4 separate regions of the Homo sapiens genome follow, and all the other regions are linked to region 4. Evidence: fine-mapped expression QTL. A gene starts in region 4. Each other region holds a variant in brackets. All regions are shown on one strand. Distances are between the middles of the regions.

What was found.
Region 1: its variant is fine-mapped to the expression of MYO1G in whole blood (INTERVAL, PIP above 0.99).
Region 2: its variant is fine-mapped to the expression of MYO1G in whole blood (TOPMed, PIP above 0.99).
Region 3: its variant is fine-mapped to the expression of MYO1G in whole blood (TOPMed, PIP 0.97).

The regions. Positions count from the first base shown.
Region 1 is chr7:45,034,582-45,037,268 of GRCh38, forward strand. All of the region lies in intron 1 of CCM2 (CCM2 scaffold protein), which reads left to right. Among named protein-coding and RNA genes, the nearest start is that of CCM2, 36 kb to the left of the region's middle. The variant G/A (reference allele first, on the strand shown) is at 1,332.
Region 2 is chr7:44,948,218-44,950,904 of GRCh38, forward strand. No RefSeq gene overlaps it. Among named protein-coding and RNA genes, the nearest start is that of MYO1G, 29 kb to the right of the region's middle. The variant C/T (reference allele first, on the strand shown) is at 1,534.
Region 3 is chr7:45,127,410-45,130,096 of GRCh38, forward strand. No RefSeq gene overlaps it. Among named protein-coding and RNA genes, the nearest start is that of TBRG4, 17 kb to the left of the region's middle. The variant C/T (reference allele first, on the strand shown) is at 1,398.
Region 4 is chr7:44,977,672-44,980,358 of GRCh38, forward strand. MYO1G (myosin IG) reads right to left here and starts at 1,344. Exons shown (of 22, transcript NM_033054.3): 1 at 1,196-1,344. The coding sequence starts at 1,290. RefSeq lists a silencer at 1,287-1,376 and enhancers at 1,577-1,646, 1,677-1,726.

The DNA of each region.
Region 1 (2,687 bases), 57 kb after region 4:
AATCTCGGCTCACTGCAACCTCCGCTTCCCCGGTTCAAGCAATTCTCCTGCCTCAGCCTCCCAAGTAGCTGGGATTACAGGCGCCCGCCACCACACCCAGCTAATTTTTGTTATTTTTAGTAGAGACGGAGTTTCACCATCTTGGCCAGGCTGGTCTCTTAACTCCTGACCTCAAGTGATCTGCCTGCCTCACCCTCCCAAAGTGCTGGGATTACAGGTGTGAGCCACTGCACCCAGCTTCTGGAAGCATTTTTAAAAAGTTTTTATTTTTCTTGAGACAAGGTCTCACTCTGTTGCCCAGGCTGGAGTGCAATGGCATGATCACAGCTTACCGCAGCCTTGACCTACCGGGCTCAAGCAACCTCCTGCCTCAGCCTCCCAAGTAGCTGGTACTACATGCGTGAACCACCACACCTGGCTAATTTTTGTAGTTTTTGTAGAGATGGGGTCCCACCAGGTTGCCGGGCTGGTCTTGAATCCCTGAGCTCAACAATCTACCCACCTCGGCCTCCCAAAAGTGTTGGGATTATAGGCGTGAGCCGCTGCACCCAGCCTGGGAGCACTTTCTGTCCCCTCTGTGGTTCGTCTTAGAGCGGATCATCTTGTAAGGATGTTGGTGATCTTAATTTTTTATGCTTTTATATTTTGCCTCAGTTTAAGTGTAATCAGCAGGAAGCAGAAAATATATTCATCATTTTCAAAAAATATTTAAAAATTCAAATATTAAAAAAATACAGAGAAAAGTTAACAAAGCTACTGTATACATCATCTGGCTCCAACTGTTACCAACTCTGAGGACCTTTAGTCATCCTTACTCCATGCTCTCCCCTACCACCGGATGTACTGAGCAGCAGAGAATGGGACCTGGGAGGGGGCCTATTCCAGGTCAAAGGGGAGAGACTACTCCTGGTCAACGGGGAACTACTCTGGGTCTATGAGAGGACTAGTTCAGGTAGATGAGGGACTACTCCAGGTCAATGGGGAACCACTCTGGGTCAAGGGAAGACTATTCCAGGTCGGGCAAGGGGAGCTATTCCAGGTGAAGAAGGCGGATGCAGGGGTGGGTCCAGTCAGCCCAAGTGAGAGAGGAAGCATTTTAGCAGATTATAGGGCTTTAAGCCTGGGTCACAGGTGTGTCACCTGTTGGGGGCACGAATGAAGAGCTTAGGCTGTGATGCTGGTCCAACTTTATTATAGTCTGTGGTAGTGATGAGTAGGAGACAGTCTGATTATATACATATATACATATATATATATATGTATAGACAGCAGTGGAAGAAGAGATAAATTTTAACTTATTGTCAAGGTAAATACAGTCATAAAATTAACTG[G/A]TATATATTTTGCTTGTTCACAACATATCAGACGTGCTCAGAACTTTATGTAGATTATTGTATTGATTGCCTGTGGCACTTCTCTAAGGATTGTTAGCCTGTTGTGCAGATGGTGAGAGCTCATCCAACCAGTTTGCTTAGTAAGTGGTGCAGCCCAATGCATGCCGGAGCAGAGATCATGCCTAGGACCTGAGGAACATCTATCTTTACTGGTAGAAGAAAGAGAGCTGGCAAAGGGTGCGTGAGATGCAGGAAACACAGGGGACAGAGTGACAGAGGCGTGGTGGCAGCGTTAGTGCACTTCTCTGGAAGCAAGACTTTCTGTTGTGTTTTTTGTTTTCGTTTTTATTGAAAGAGCTTCCTGATTCCATGTCTGTTTTAGTGGGTGAATGGAATAAAAACCCAGCTATGAAAGGGTGAAATAAATAAAGGTAAGAAGGAAGCTGAGGAGCAGAAAGCTCAGCCTTGGCTGTCAGGAGGCAGCAGGGTCAGGAAAAATGTTGGGTTTTGCTCTTTGAGGATTTGTTTTATTTGGGGTGGCTTTTGTTTGCTTATTTACTTTTCCCGCTAATGCTGGAGAGCTGAGCATGATGGTGGTGGTGGGGAGGGGCTCATACAGGGCAGGGTCCAACCCCAGCCTCATTAGGGAGGCAGCTGCAGGGCCTGCTGGGAGCCACTGGACGACCAATTTCTGCTTTTTTCAGGAGTGGTTACTGAATAGTGTAGTCCTTGGCTGCAATTGTCTGTGAAATTGGTGGGTTTGAGGAGGTGTCCTTATAGGACCACAGGTTCTGCTACACCGTTTTATATTGGATTTTGCATATGGGTGAATTTCCCATATGCTGGAGAGAGACAGAAATGAGAGCTTTTAATGAAAGTTTGGTGGTTTATTGTATATATGTTTTGTTAGTTTCTGTGTTTGGTGATAAGGGGGGTCTGAGCTTGGCCTACTGTGGGGGTTTCGGCTGCCATCTGTGCACTGGGTCACCCTATCCTGGCAGGCACCTGCAAAAGGAGTGTTGTCATCTCCTCCTGCGTTTCCTCTGTTGAGAGTTATGGAGGAGATGGTGGGGAATAAGTTCTCACTCTTAGTCACGGCTCTGGTTTTTGCAGGCCTGCGTGATGTTTCCTTGCTGCGGCTGCACATCAGTGTCTTGTTTTCTCGGGTTTATGTTCCTTTGGGTGACTGTAGATAGGGATTGTAGCATGATCTCTCAGCACAATTTGGGATTGCTTCCCCCCAGACCCCCACCCCCCGCCGCCATTGTCAAAGGTGGTGATGAAAAGCTTTCTTACGGAGTTATTGTGAATGAAGTGTCAGGTCTTTTCCTGGGTTCTGCAGGCGAGGCTTGCTGT
Region 2 (2,687 bases), 29 kb before region 4:
CACTCTAATCCTAATTCTGAATTTAACATAATCTGTCACTAACAATACTCTAACCACACCCAATCCCCAAATTAGCATTAATTCTAAACCCTAACACTAAGCCTAACCCAAATGTAATTTAATCCTAACCTGAACTTCAAACCCAAAACTAACCCTAACCTTAAATCTAACCCTAAACTAACTGTAACCCTAACTAACTCCAGCTCTGAGAATCAACTTTACCTCAACTCTACCCCATTAACCTAAACACTAACGATATCCTTAACTCCAACCCTAAGTCTAAAGGTAATCCTCATACCAACCAAATATTAAGCCTAACCATAATCATAAATATAATCATATTGCCAAAACTAATCCAAATTTAACTCTAACACCAAATTTAGCCCTAACCCAATACTAATTCTAACTCTAATATTTGAACTAACCCCAAATATTACCTTATTATAGTCATGAACTTCATCAAATTGCCAACTCTAATCCTAACTCCAACACTGTCGTTAACCTTCAATTTAACTGTTAATAGTATCACTAAACCTCAGCACTAATCTTTACCCTCATATTAACTCTATCATTAAGCAAACCCTGGATTAACAAAACTCCTATGTAAACCCTTACTCTAATTCTAATTCTAACCCCAACTCGTCAACTAAAAACAACTCTAGTCCTAATGCTCATTTTAATAACCCTAAGCCCGGTGCCAACTCTAGCACTAAATTTATCCTGAAACCTAATACTAACCCCAAAACAAGAAACAGAGCTCTAATTTGAATAAATAATCCAATTCGAAATCTGTCACTGTTTTTTTTTTCTTTTTTTGAGACAGAGTCTCGCCCTGTCACCCAGGCTGGAGGGCAATGGTGTGATCTCGGCTCACTACAAGCTCCAGCTCCCTGGTTCAAATGATTCTCCTGCCTCAGCTTCCTGAATAGCTGAGATTACAGGTGCCCGGCACCACACCCAGGTATTTTTTGTATTTTTAGTAGAGACAGGGTTTCACCATGTTGGCCAGGATGGTCTTGAACAGCTGACCCCGTGATCTGCCCTCCTTGGCCTCCCAAAGTGCTGGGATTACAGGAGTGAGCCACTGCACCCGGCCACTGTTTTTATATTTTACTGTCTAATCAGATTCAAAGACCTGTGTCATCTGACAGGCACATTTCCCCCTAATTTGCTATGAATATTAAAATTCTAAAGAGAAATCATGTGACGGTTTTCAGAGAGATTGGTGTCTATTCCAATAAGGCCCCTTCTCTGACACCTGGATCTCATTACCAGATCCTAGGCTGTTTCTTGTCATTTCTGGAACTTGTCCTGAGTATTTGCAGAGTTGGTCAGACTTTGGGGGAGTAACTCATACTAACCCAAACCTATCAGACAAATGTATAATGCAAATCACCAATGTATTGTGAGTGTGGAGTTGTATACAAAATGGACAACCAGCCCATTTGTACAACTAGAACTCTGAAGTACAGCCTGCAGCCACCTACCCAGGAAAACAACATTTTCTTTTTTTTTCTGAGACAGAGTCTTACT[C/T]TGTTGCCCAGGCTGGAGTTCAGTGGCGCGATCTCGGCTCACTGCAACCTCCGCCTCCCGGGTTCAATCAATTCTCCTGCCTCAGCCTCCTGAGTATCTGGGATTACAGGCGTCCGCCACCATGCCCGGCTAATTTTTGTATTTTTAGTAGAGATGGGGTTTCACCATGTTGGCCAGACTGGTCTTGAACTCCTGGGTGCAAGTGATCCACCTGCCTCAACCTCCCAAAGTTCTGGGATTGCAGGCGTGAGGCACCGAGCCCAGCCACAACCTCTTTTATCTACAGTAACCAGCCTGGGGTGCCAACCTGCTATAAGTCAAACTTGCAGGAAGCCAGGTGCTATCTCTAGTGACAATCTAGGAAGCTAGTAATTGGCACTGTGGCTCACACCTGTAATCCCAGCACTTTGGGAGGCTGAGGAGGAGGATCTCTTGAGACCAGGAGTTCAAGGCAAGCCTGGGCAACATAGCGAGACCCCATCTCCACAAAAAATTTAAAAATTAGCCAGGTGTGGTGGTGCTCATCTGTACTCCCAGCTACTGAGAAGGCTGAGGCAGGAAGATCACATGAGCCTGGAAATTCAAGGTTACAATAAGCTATGATTCTGTCACTGCACTCCAGCCTGGGCAACAGGACAAGCCCTGTCTCAAAAAAAAATTAGCATCTTAACAATTTTCAAGTGCACAGTTCAGTGGTGTTAAGTACATTCACATTGATGTGCAATCACTACATCCATCTCCAGAACTTTTTCATCTTCCCAAACTGAATTTCTGTCCCCATTAAACACTAACTCCCCATTTCCCTTCCCCCAGCCCCTGGCAGCCACCATTCTACTTTCTGTCTGTATTAATTTGATGACTCCAGGTTCCTCATATAAGTGGAATCAGACAGGATTTCTTTTTGTGACTGGCTTATTTCACTTAGCATAATGTCCTCAGGGTTCATCCATATTGTAGCATGTGTCAGAATATTCATCCTTTTTAAGGCTGAATAATATTCCACTGCGTGTATATACCACATTTTGTTGGTCCATTCATCCATCAATGGACACTTGGCTTGCTTCCACTTTTTAACTATTGTGAATAATGCTGCTATACGTATGGATGTACAAATGTCTCCTCAAGATCCCTTTCAACTCTTTTATACATATACC
Region 3 (2,687 bases), 150 kb after region 4:
CCCATGGCATGACATGGCTCCATCACGGCCCTTATAGTCCCTCTGCAAAGCAGTGGGCCTCAACCCAGGCCCTTCCTGGGGTAGCCAGCATGGACACTCTGGCCATGGTGACTTGCCACCTCTTGTGCCTCTCCATGGCTTGAAGTTTACCCAATGCTTCACGTAGGCTGTTCCACCTTCCCGGGAAGGGAGCTACACACACACCAGAGACCTGGTGGAGTCCAGGGCTTGGGGAAGTGAAGGTGGCAAGGCCGTGATTGTTTACTGGCAGGCCTTGGTGGCCCTTTTCTCTGTCTCTGTCCGTTCCTACCTACATCATGAGTGGATTTGGCTAGAAGATCTGAGTCCTTCTGTCGCCGATGCTGGGTCTGAGGTGAGAGCTGACCCATCCATCCCAAGAACTCAGATCCCTGGCCACAGACTCACACTGTGAGCGCCCTCCCCCTGCCCCCCACCCCACACCTAGTCCCTTCTTCCTTGACAGCACAGAGGGGCACTTCCTTCACCAGCATTTCCCATCTCCACAGGGTGCCCCCAGAGCTAGCTATGCCATTTTCAGGGCACCTTGTTCAACAAATGGAAAAAAAGTACTGGTAAAGGTACTAGAATAAAAAAGTATTTTTCTCTTCCACAGTCTCTCTGTACTTGTCATGATGCTTTTCACAATGTGTCAATTTAAGTAAATGAAAATAAAAATTTCTTATTATGAACATGAGTATCAGCAGTCATTTTTATGTTGTACAATGCCAATTCAAAGGCAAACACAAGAGCATTGAGCTCTTAGGCAGAATCACCCAATCACACAATTCTTACCTTGTAGCTCACATGGGCACACATATACAACAGTGCAAACGCTGCACAAAACTAACTCAACTGGTTTTGTTCCACTTATTTTTTTCTCATTTCTTTTTATTTAATATTTTTGGATCCATCTGTTGTTCTGAGGAAACAGCTTCCTCTTAAGCAGTTTTACTCTTCTGACACAAGGAACTGGTTGACTGAATGTGTCAGATTAAACTTTCCCTCCATTACATCAAACCTGCTGTAACCAATGTTGTGGCCAGACACTCTTAGCACCCTAGGTCTGCTTTGCCTCTTATGGCCATTCATATCTATATGAACTTGTATATTAATAAGGATAAAAAGTTGCATTCTTTATTTTTATCTTATTTTAATAAGATAAAAATATTTAATTTAATTTAATTTTTTTTTTTTTTTGAGACAGAGTCTTGCTCTGTCACCCAGGCTGGAGTGCTGTGGCACAACTCCGGCTCACTGCAACCTCTGCCTCCTGGGTTTAAGCGATTCTCATGCCTCAGTCTCCTGAGTAGTGGGACTACAGGTGCTTGCCACCAAGCCCGGCTGATTTTTTTGTATTTTTAGTAGAGATGGGGCTT[C/T]GCCATGTTGGCCAGGCTGGTCTTGAACTCCTGACCTCAAGTGATCCGCCTACCTCGGCCTCCCAAAGTGCTGGGATTACAGGCATGAGCCACCGCACCCAGCCCTATTTTAATTTTTTATTGAGATGTAATTCACATGCCGTCAGATTCACCCCCAATTGTAAAGTGTACAATTGAGTGTTTTTTAGTACATCCAAAACGTCATACAACCTCCACCTCTAATTCCAGAACATTCCATCACCCTAAAAAGAAACCTAGTACCCACTATCAGTTACTTTCTATTTCCTTCCGTCCCCAGCCTCTGGCAACTGCCAATTGACTTTCTGTCTCTGTGGATTTGCCTATTCTGGACATTTCATGGAGATGAAATCATAGAACGTGTGACCTGCTGTGCCTGACTTATCTCACGGAGCGTGGCTGCTGAGGTTCATCATGTTGTAGCACGTGTCGGTGCTTCACCCTGTTTATGTACCATAGTATTCCTTGGTGTGCATGCACACACTCTGTTGGTCCATTCATCTATTGATGGACATTGGGCTGTCTCCACCTTTTGGCCCCCGTGAGGAGTACCGCTGTGAGCACTGGTGATTTCACCTGTTGACATGTACATGCCCTGCCAAGGCTCTCCTTCTCTGGCTACCGGACAAGCAAGGAAGGCACTTGGCTACTGTCTTCCCCTTTCCTGCTGTGCTGTCCTTTTCAGAGTAACTGGCTGGCTCCTACGGGAATAAGGCAGGCAGGAAAGGGCCGGCAGGGCTCCTGGGCTGCTCGTGTTTCTCAGAGACCCGTCGCATCCTTCTGTGGCTCCAGCCTGTCGGGAAGCCAGGGCCCCACTCCGTCTGTGCCTTTCTGGGACCTGTGCACATGGGATGGCCAGGCCTGCTGCACATGTGGGTCACATGTGTGTTTGTTCCATTGTCCCACCAGACTTCACTTACTAGCACATATGTTGACAGGTGAAATTAAGGATTTCAAGGCATAAGAGCAGAATGTTGAACCAAGCTTAGGGACACATGGTTGTGTGGGCTGCTGGCATGAAGTGGCACACACCTGGAGCCCCTGATTTACCCGCTGTCTTGGCTGCCCCCAGGGGTCCCAAAGACCCTCTGTCCCTGGCCCCTACTCCCCAGCTCTGCTCTAACTCTGACGTCTCAAGTCCCACAGAGGCTAGGCCCTGCCACAGCCTGACCCCCTTCCAGCCGGCTCAGCCCCTCCTGATCCACACCTCTGCCCTCACACCTCTCGGGGCTCCAGGCTCCCGCTTTCCCCTTTTCTCCCCAGCCACCCTCT
Region 4 (2,687 bases):
CTTCACAAACCTGGTCCCCAGTGGGGGTGGATGTCTGCCCTTCTCTTGACCTTTCTGCCCCTGGGAGGAGGACTGGCAGGCCTGCCCCTCAGACCCATCTCCCCTTGGTGTGTGGTACCCACCCTTCCCTGGATGGCCCTGTCTCCCGGCAGCCTGTCCTGGGTGGGCCTGTCCTGAGGTTCCTCTTTCTCCACCACCTCTGACATGGGTTTTCCTGGGCCTAGCTCCCATCCTCCTACAAGCTGGGGATGAGGGCACAAGTCACCCACGTCTCCAGGGCTCAGTGTTCTCCTCATCAAAATAGAGAGGACAATGTTTCATAAGCTCATTTTATAAGAATGAGGTAGAACAATGTGCACAAAGTGCTTAGCTCACGTCCTGGCTAGCCCTCCTCTTTGAGCCAGGCTCGTGGTCTCTTGCCTTCGGTGCTTAGTGGGGATCCTGGTCCCCAAGCTCTCCCCAGGGAGCTTCCGGAGTACACAGCGAGTGGCCTTCTGCCCCTCCCTGGGAGTCCTGGCAGGAAGCCCAGCTGCCTGTATGGCCACCCTACTGTGCCATGCCCCTACCTCCCGGGCTTCTCCCTGCCCTCCACCTGCCCTCCTTGATGGTAAATTGGGCTCCAATATCACTTCTACCAACTGTGTCCTGTGATACTCCATGTACCCCAGGAGAATGTCACCTCAACTTGGTGGGAATGTTTGGACCCTAGGGTGGAGCCTGACTGCTTCATCTCAGTGTCCCCAGGGCTCAGGCCAGGCCCCATGGATGAGATGCATCGAGGGAGCATCAACAACTGGCTGGGAAGTGGCTGGAGGGAGGTGCCCCTGGTCCCTCCTGGAAAGATAGTGCCTGGTATGTATCTGTCCAAGAAGTGTCATGCCCTGGCCCCGTCGGGCAGGAAAGAAGGGGCAGAAGATGCCTGGACTGTGTGGGAGGCAGGGGTGGGTTGAGGTGGTGGGCAGCTCCGGTGCTGACTTGCCAGCCCTGACAGGGACAGTTGCCTCCTTGTCTGTTCCTGTCCCCTGGGGCCGTGCTTTGAGGCACTCATTTCAGCCCCATCTGGTCTGGGTGGGTGTGTGCCACTGCCCCCTCCCTTGGACAGCAGCGTGCCTTCCTCTTTCCCTCAGGTCTCTGCGAGGACGCAAGGTGGGAGACCCTGGAGGAGGGGAGCCACTGCCTCCTGCCCTGGGCCTACCTGAGCTGCAGGTTCCTCATGAAGTCCTCCATGGTCACTTGGTCCAAAAGCACAAAGTCAGGTTTGCCATACTCAGGGCCTTCCTCGTCCTCCATCCTGCCGGCTGGAAACACCTTGCCTCACCTTCCTGTGCCTGCTGGAAGGACAGTGAAGGAGAGGGGGAGGGAAGGCTAGGGGAGGCCCCACCGCCCCCGCCCTGCCCCACCAGCCTCCTCCAGTGCTGGTGTAAAGTAGGAAGTGGGTTCTAGTCCTGGGAGGGGCTGCCCTCCGCACTTGCCACTCCTTCCCCCTCGAGGTGCTCTAAACCCTGCTTCCTGTCCCTGCGCCCCACAAGGAGGCTGTGCCTAACGGTCTGACCCGTTTGCACGCCAGGGGCGAGGGGCCGGATGCTGGGTCCTCCCCGCTTTGGAGGGTTCTTCGCTGGCCTCCTTCGGAAGCTCCCCTCCACCCACAAGCAGGAGACAAGACTCCGTGGGTTGGCTTCCAACCCTGGCAGCACGTTAGAGTCACTTGTGGGACTTTAAAGAAAGATTTTTTGACGTGATCTTGGTTACCTGGCTGTGTGTGTCTCTCAAGTCAGAACTGAACACTAGATGCAATATACTGTATGTACATTGTACATTAATACAAAAATGAAAAAGGATCCTAATGCCCAGGCCTTTGGGGTGGGGGCAACAGCCTTCTTTGCAGTGTGAAGGCCACACTGGGGTGTAGACGAGCAAAGCTTCTTGTGTGACCTGCCAAGGGCCAGTGGTCCTAGCACTGCAATTCCCCACCCCAGCCACGGGGGAGGGACAGAGGACCCCAGAGCATCCTCTGCATGGGGCTGGCCTTCAGTGGGACCCCTGTGCCCCTAACTGTCCTCTGCCTTGTACTTGTGTCCAGCCGATCCCCCATAAACTGCAGTGAGGACCAGGAACATGCCTGGAGCCCTGTGGCCTCATCTCAGAGCTGCTGTCCCTGCACTTTGAAGATGAGGCAGCGCATTTGGGGAGCGGCTGCATTTAGGGAGTGGCCAAAATCTCCAGACACTGCATTCCTGACACTTAGTGCTCCTGGAAGAAGTGGGAGGGGTGCAGTTCTCTTAGCTTCCAGGCAGACTGGAAAAAGTTCTTTTTCATCCCAGGACAGACTGGGGCAGGTCACACCCATCCTCTAGGAACACTGGGGCGATTCTCTCATCAAAGGTCAAATGGATGCAGTTCTCTCTCATCCTACAAATAGACTGGTGACATTTCTCTTTCACCCCTTCCCTCATACAGGGAGGTCAAAGGGCAGACTCCAGAATTCCCAAACTTCAGTCATTCATGTGCTGCCTTTGAGATTTGTTGTACTCATAAGCACTAGTTTAACTATTGTCTTTCAGTCATCCCATTTTTTAAACTTTGAAGTAATGGATAGGCAAGTTAAGTTTATTTTTTTCTCTCGAATACCTTAAAGCAAATGCATTCCTGATAAAACTGAAAGTACTTATTCAAGTACCTAATAAAAC